Homo sapiens: one gene and its partner. Changing the gene in region 1 together with any one later gene gives a genetic interaction. Each region holds a gene or a part of one and is shown in the gene's direction. Other genes may lie near its edges. The genes, in order: CWC22 and MED23.

Region 1 (3,827 bases):
GACTACCTACTCACTGTGGCTCCATACTTTCTTCTCACTTCCTCTCTCAGTCTTCTCCTCAGCCTGCCTCTTCAGTGTTCCTGGGTTCCACACACTGTCTCTGGACTATTCCATCCACTTCTCTTGGCTTCATATACTTACTTATTTGGTCCCTGTCTACTTGACCAGGCTCGTCTTCTCTCTCTTCAGCAAGCTGCACTCCAGCCATACCAACACTGCCAAGCTTGTTAAACATATCTGGCTCTTTCATGCTTCCTTACCTCAGTTTCCACTGCTGGCATTCTCCTGTCTTATTGATCTATCTGGGAAACTCTTAATCATTCTTCTTATATTGTACCTTTTTCTGTGAGAAAGTTTTTTCTGACTCCACTGAGTAGTTACTCAGTGTGGTGCTGAAAACCAAATGTCCAAAACCACCTTGTATTGTTAGTGTCTTTCTGGTTGTCTCACTCCATATATATTGTAATTATATGGTCTTCATCCTTGATTTCTCCCTTTTGTTGATGACTTCCACCTCTCCCCCAGTACTTGGCACAGTTCTATGTATGTGTGTGTACGTGTACATACACAACAGAGAAGGTTTTTAAAATTTTTTGTACATATATTCACTATATATACGTGTGTGTATATATATACACTATATATATTCACACGTGTATATATGTGTATATATTTATCTTTCTATATGTGTGTGTGTAAAAAAAGTTTTTTAAAAACCTCCTACATTGTATAATGATAGAAATCAAGTTTGGTACATTATTACTTGACCCTACTCATTTCATTTAGATAGCACGTAGCCTAACCTAATAAATGACATCAACTAGTTACTTGGTTGTATTTCATTTAGTAATTTAATATATGAAAAATCTGAAAAATGACTAAGGATTTTACCTTTTTATCTTTAAGCAATGTGTTCTCTTTTGTTTATTTTTTTCCTTTTTAGAACTCTGCAGCCATTCTTTGAAGGATTATTACCCCGAGATAATCCAAGAAACACTCGGTTTGCCATCAACTTCTTTACTTCTATAGGTCTTGGAGGTTTAACGTAAGGATTATTCTCAGAATTTATGTTCAGATTATAAAATTATCTCATAATTGTCTTTGAAATAGAATCTAACAGATTATATTTTAAATTAGGGATGAACTGCGGGAGCATCTCAAAAATACACCAAAGGTCATTGTGGCGCAGAAACCAGATGTTGAGCAAAATAAATCCTCCCCATCCTCTTCCTCTTCAGCGTCCTCCTCTTCAGAGTCTGACTCATCCGACTCTGATTCTGACAGCAGTGATAGCAGTTCAGAGTCTTCCAGTGAAGAGAGCGACTCTTCATCCATCAGTAGTCATAGCTCTGCCTCAGGTATTGAAGCTTATGTGTAATTTGGCTTGCTCTTTTCTAATAAATATGTTGCTGATATATATGAAGGAAGAAAATAATTTGATTGTTTATTTGTCTTAGAGATCAGTTGTTTAAAAGCCACAATTAATACAAATGGTCCCATCTATCATTCTTGCAGTCTGTAATACAACATTTATAATGCTGGGATTACCTTTTGACATCCTCATCATAGAAATGAAAATATTTCATTCGCAGATACTTATCTGAGTGATGACTGATATGAACCATCCATTCATAATGTTTGTAATCTAGTTTATAGGAGCTATCCTGATGTTTTTATTTTAAATAAATTTTAGTTTTTTACTTTTAATATTAAAGCTGTTTGTAATTGAGATATATCATACATTCATTGTGGATCTCAGATGCTATATGAATTTTTATAAAGGGAACACATCCTCATAGCTAGCACACAAATCAAGATATACCGGTACCCCAGAAGTTCTCTGTGTTTCCTCTCCCAGTTACTACTCCTTCCATCCTCATGGCAGCTACTATTCTGATTTGTAATTTCATAAATTAATTGTGCCTGTTTTTACCTTTAGCATTATGTATTATGGACTCCTTTTTATGTCTGGCTTATTTTTTTACCATTATGTTTGTGAGATTTAGATGCATTACTGCATTTAGTTATAGTTAATTCAGTAATATTGCTATGTAGTTTCCTACTATATGAATATACCACAATATATATTTATCATTTTTGCTCAACAGACTTTAGATTTTCAAGTGATATTTCCATGTATATTCTTGTACATATCTTTTGATGACCTTATTTATTTATTCACATTTCTACTGGGTATGTACCTATAGGTGGAGTCAGTGTGTCATAAGATGTGCATATATTTAGCTTTGGTGAATACTGTCAGTTTTCCAAGTGGTTATTCCTATTTACACTCCCACCGGCCATGTATAAGAGTTTCATTAGCTCCCATTCTCATTAATACTTCAAATTGACCGTCTTTTTCATTTCAGCCATTCTGGTGGATGTGTAATGGTACTGCATGGCGGTTTTAGTTTTAATTTGCATTTCAACTAGAGAAGTTAAATGCCATTTTATCCATTATTGGCCATTTGGATTTTTGTTGTCAAGTGGCTGTTCAAGTATTTTACCAATTTTTTTTAGTTAAGTTGTTTTCTCTGTTGATTTGTAGGTTTTCTTTACATATTCTAGATATGATATCTTTTGTACATATATGTATTGCAAATAACCAGTCCCATTCTTGTCTCTCTAGCCCTGCAAGGCTACCAGACCTCTGGTGTCTCTGTCCCTCAGTAGCATCCCTGAATCAGCAGATGCTCCCAGGGAGAAAGTAGCTGTAGAACATCACTTACTTCTCAATGTTTCTGCTTTCTCCTGCATCTTGGCCCCTCTAGTACTTGTTTTTCCACTAGCTCTCTGATGCCTTTATATTTTTTACTTTGTAACTGTAACCTTTTATTCTGAGCTAATTTTAGATTTAGGAAAGTTGCAAAAACAGTACAGAGAATTTCCATATACTCTTCATTCCAACTTCCCCTAATGGTAGCATCTTACATAACACTGGTTCATTTATCAAACTAGGAAATTAGCATTGGAACAGCATTATTGACTAGACTACAGATGTGATTTGAAAACCAGTTTTACCACTAATGTCGTTTTTCTTATTTCAGGATTCTGCTAGCATTTAATTGTATTCTCAGTTTTCTGCATTCTATGATAGTTCCTCTCGGGCTTTCCTTGTTCTTAATAGCTTTAACACTTTTGAAGTCCTCTGGTCACTTATTTTGTAACCTGTCCCTCAGTATGGAGTTTCGTCTGATGTTTTCTCCTTATTAGAATGAGATTAGACATTTTTGGCAAGAGTACATTAGAAACAATGTGTTGTTCTTAGTGCATCTTATCAAGAGGTTCATAATTTTATTTTGGGTGACAACCTTGATCACTTGAGTAAGGTGGTGTCCACTGGATGTCTTCAGGGAAACTATTTTTCTCTGTGAAAATGTCTTGTAGGGAGGTAACTTGATACTATGCAAATCTCTTTTTCCTCCAGCTTTTACTCACTAATTTTAACATCCATCTTTGGATGGTTAAAAAATCACCTAATGGTGATTTTTTATTTGTCTGTTTTCTTCTACATCTAGTAATTGAATTTCTTCTATAAGAAAGTATTGTCCCTCTTCCCTCATTTATTTATTTAGTCAACTGTAAATATCAATATAGACTCACGGTTATTTATCTTATCCTGTGGGTTAAAGTCCAATACTGTCATTTATTTTGCTCAAATCATCTTAGCTTTGGCAATTAGGAGTTCCTTCAACTTGATTTCTGTGTGCTTTTCAACATTTTTCAATGCAACATTTTAAAATTGTATCTGGCATTTCTAGTTATTTTCAGCAGGAGCACAGGTTTGCCACAGTCTTCTCTATCCTACCTGGAAGTGGAAATGCTAT
Region 2 (4,338 bases), on another chromosome or scaffold:
AAGTCACAGGAGATTTTTATCTTCAAATTTTAGGTTTCTTACTGAAGTACTTCTTCCTATAGTGAAGACCGAATTCCAGTTGCTTTATGTATACCATCTTGTTGGACCATTTTTACAAAGATTTCAGCAAGAGAGAACTCGTTGTATGATAGAGGTAAAATATAATCTGGGTTTCCTGTGACATGATTAAATTCTGAAGTATCTATTTAAGTTTCTTTACCAGTGTTATTGAAACTGCAGGTCACAACCATTAGTAGTGAAACTAGTTTAACAGGATCCAAGAGCAATTTTAGAGGACTTAGTTTGCCAGTAATGAATTTAGGGTGGGATGTATTGAATTGGAGATGCAGAGGAAACGCCCATCATGAAGGTTGAGAAGAGGTTAAGGATGGAGAAGTACATTTGAGATCTTACAGTGCAGAGGAGCTAATTAAAATCATGAGAATGGATGAAGTCAGTCACTTCTAACAAAATGTCGCAAACAAGGAAAGGACCCAGGAGTAGAACCTTAAAGCAAGAGCTACCAAATGGAACTAAGAAAGTATAATCCAAAGGATCCCTAGGAGTGGAGTTATCCCAGACATCGAGAGATGGTGTCTAGAAAGGGGATTGTTTATCTCTTGATTTTAAGAGAAATTACTTAACTATGAAGAGAAATTTTATTTAAGCCTTGTCAGGGGCATTTTGTAGCACTATAGATTCTTTTATAAATGCAAGCCATATCATATCTCATGTGCATAGAGGTGTATATGGTATATGACAGTTCTACAGCAAAGACAGTATCCCCCGGTGCTAGTGTTGTAATGGAGCCCAGCTGCATCATGCTGAATTACTGAATCACTTGATCACTTAAATAATTTTACATTATTTGTTAAATAGATTGGTGTGGCGTTTTATGACATGCTGCTGAATGTTGACCAGTGTAGCACCCATTTAAATTACATGGATCCCATCTGTGACTTCCTCTATCACATGAAGTATATGTTTACTGGTGACAGCGTGAAAGAGCAAGTAAGTTGAATTTGTTTAATTATTTTTAATGATGTTTAATTTAGAAAACTTGAACATATAGTAATAGACTTTTTTGGTTTGGGTGATTATTTTTATTTTGTCTAATTTTTTCTTTTAAGGAAAAAGGGTGGGTATGAGACCTTTTTAGGCATCAGAGGCATATTATTCTAGATGTAGTATTAAAGGAAATACATGTTATAATTTCTTGTACTTTTCCCCCTTGATATTTGCAACAGAAAATCTGAAAAAGACCTAGAGGGTTAATTAATAGTAATCTCATTAGGGAGAAACAGTGGGATATGGCTGCTGAAATATGAGCAGAGAGGTTGTTGTGTTATGAGTAAAGGAGGTCCTGCTTCTCCTGACACTCATGGTGACAGTAGACAAACCGCGGCATAACTAGAAGACTAAAGTCAGGATTCTAGACTAATCCTGACTAGAGACTAACTCATGAAAAGCATTTAGAGAATATGGGAATGCTTATCCTGAAGAAAAAAGTCCTAGGGAATTATTTATGACCTCAGCATTTTGGAGGGTTTTCATTTGGAATAGGTATTAGATTCGTTCTGTGTCACTTTAGAGGGTGTATGAATTCTGGTAAAGTTAAAGGGAGGCCACCCTGACTTAGCATATGAAGAGGAACTTCCTAATGGGGATGTCTGAAAGTAGAAAAAGACCTTGAATCATAACTGAGTTTCCTACGTGTAGGAAACAGAATCTGGGCCATTTTAAAGGAGTGGAGGTAGGACAGATAGGGAAAGTTAAGTCCATCCTCCTACCCCTCCCAGTACTTTAGGTTGAGATGCCAAGGAGGTTGACTCCTTTATGTCTCAGCAGCAGTGTCAAAGAGAGTTGACCTGTTCTCTCTCATGTAAGAAAGAGAGAAATTGTATCTGCTTTTGTTACAACACAGAACATGCAGAGAAACTGTAAAAGAAATTGTTTATTTGTTTGTTTTTTTAAAAAAAGTATTCTTTACATTTAGGCCTAAGAAACTTTAACACAAGGGAGTACAGAAAGGAAAAGGTCAAAGAGCATTTGAGTAAAGCTAAGAAAGCTGTGAAACGACTTGATGTGTTTGTCTCCTTAGTGTTTTTCAAAAGAGTAGATCTAATATTATTTAGTTAATTCCAAGTGTAAATCAAAACCAAAATAGTTTTATAGATAAATGTTGCAAACATGAGTTATTCAAAGAACTTTATAATTATGCTTCATGCTTCTGTAAAGATGGCATTTTAAAAGAATGATCAACTTGTTGGATGTATAAAATTTCCAGTGTAAACTCTGCTAGCTTTTGGTAGTGGGATGACTGGCTAGCTAGATGAGTGGATACGCCTTTGTAAGTATATGCATATATATGAATATACATATGGTACATGTACAGACATGCACATATAATATATAAGGGGTGTGTGTGAGGGAGAACGTATTGTTTCTCATGCAAGAAAGAAATCATTGTATCTGCTTTTCTTAAAACACAGAACATGTTAAGAAACTTCTCATCTACCCCACGACACTCCTTAGTTTATTGTCTCCGGATATGTGTAAATCCTGCTTTAAATGTGAGAAGTTGAAATTCTCTGATTAAAGTACGTTTTAATGTGTTTTTATTTCTTAGGTAGAGAAGATTATCTGTAACTTAAAACCAGCTTTAAAACTTCGTCTTCGATTCATCACACACATTAGCAAGATGGAGCCAGCTGCAGTGCCTCCACAAGCCATGAACAGTGGGTCTCCAGCACCTCAGTCTAATCAGGTGCCCGTGTCTTTACCAGTAACTCAGTGAAGCCAGACTGTACTGTGGAGAAAGTAGAAATATATCCGTCTTTGAGAGTGGACTCAAACCTTTTAAATCTGAATGCGATCACACTGTAGTGATATAGTAGAAGCAGTGATGATATTCAGATTGTTTTATTTTGATTCAAATGATGAATCTGTTGACACCTTATAACTCCCATCTCCCTATCTATATTTTTGTCTCTAAGAGATCAAGTAAGATACATGTTGTTCATATTCATAACAACTTATTAGAGCTATGTAGGAACATAGAGGTATCTGTGATCAAATGACTTGTCATTGGCACTTTCAGTCTTTCCTATTCTAGCCGTTGTTTTTGTTTGTATTTTTTATTATTAATGACATATTTAGTCTTCAGATATATTATTTTAAAGGCACCACACATGTAAAACAGTTATTACAAATATTTTATACATAAATCTCTTGGTAGATTTTCAGAATAATAGAGATTTATATCAAGAAAAGGAATCTAGATTTTGTTGCATTGTAGGAGCAAACAAGGCTTCATATTCTTTTTAAAATGACTTGAAATTTTATTATAAATTTCCATAGTTTCTATCAAGGTCAACTGGCAGTTTTATTACCTTTGCTATGGACTTGAACTTACTGTATAAAATTAGTTGGAAGCCATGTAAGAAAATAACATCTGAAAATTCTTGAACTTAAAATCATGCTTAAATGGTTGATTCTCCAATTTCTTTTTTTAAAAATAAGTTAATTGCTTTTGCAGGTTGACACTCTCACCTGACAGATGATGTAATTCTTCAATTTTTATAATCTTAAAATTTTTAAATTTTATATTTGTAAATACAGTACACATTTTATTTCTTGGATTTTGAGAGACATTGTTAATTTTGGGGGAATTGGCATTGCGAAAGACTTGAAAACTAATGAGTAAAGTCTGCTGAATGAATAAACCGTGTGATTGTTTCCCGACTCCATTGGAATGAGTGTCGGCTGTGTGCCAGGTGGTGTGCTGGCTGGGGTCAGTTGGAAATGGGGTACTCTGTGGTTCCTACACTACAGTTGGTGACTGACATTGGCCTAGGAATTAAGAGTTACAGATTCTTTTAAAAAGAACTAGTGAATTTAACCAACTGTATTTCAAATTCATATTTCTAAATACATTCCTCCTAGAACTTTATTTTCTTTGTAGCTCATGTAATTGCCATCACTAAATCATTACTGGCCATGCAAGTCCAGCTAAAAATTTATATAATGGTAAAAGTAATTTTTGCAGACTTACTCTTTTCTTTTTTTTTTTTTTTGAGACGGAGTCTCGTACTGTCACCCAGGCTGGAGTGCAGTGGCATACTCTGGGCTCACTACAAGCTCCACCTCCCGGGTTCACGCCATTCTCCTGCCTCAGCCTCCCTTGTAGCTGGGACTACAGGCGCCTGCCACCACGCCTGGCTAATTTTTTGTATTTTTAGTATTAGTAGAGACGGGGTTTCACTGTGTTAGCCAGGATGGTCTCAATCTCCTGACCTCGTGATCCCCCGCCTCAGCCTCCCAAAGTGCTGGGATTAC

What was found.
Region 2: changes in CWC22 (region 1) and MED23 together harm fitness less than expected from each alone (positive genetic interaction), as found in Homo sapiens cells (one large-scale study listed by BioGRID).

Annotation. Positions count from the first base shown.
Region 1 is NC_000002.12:179,948,043-179,951,869, reverse strand, and holds part of CWC22 (pre-mRNA-splicing factor CWC22 homolog), read left to right. Parts: intron 1-943; coding exon 944-1,045; intron 1,046-1,137; coding exon 1,138-1,358; intron 1,359-3,827. UniProt on the Homo sapiens protein: Required for pre-mRNA splicing as component of the spliceosome. As a component of the minor spliceosome, involved in the splicing of U12-type introns in pre-mRNAs. Promotes exon-junction complex (EJC) assembly.
Region 2 is NC_000006.12:131,586,138-131,590,475, reverse strand, and holds the end of MED23 (mediator of RNA polymerase II transcription subunit 23), read left to right. Parts: intron 1-33; coding exon 34-154; intron 155-879; coding exon 880-1,011; intron 1,012-2,629; coding exon 2,630-2,797; 3' UTR 2,798-3,538; coding exon of another isoform or gene 3,539-3,556; 3' UTR 3,557-3,744; downstream 3,745-4,338. UniProt on the Homo sapiens protein: Required for transcriptional activation subsequent to the assembly of the pre-initiation complex. Component of the Mediator complex, a coactivator involved in the regulated transcription of nearly all RNA polymerase II-dependent genes.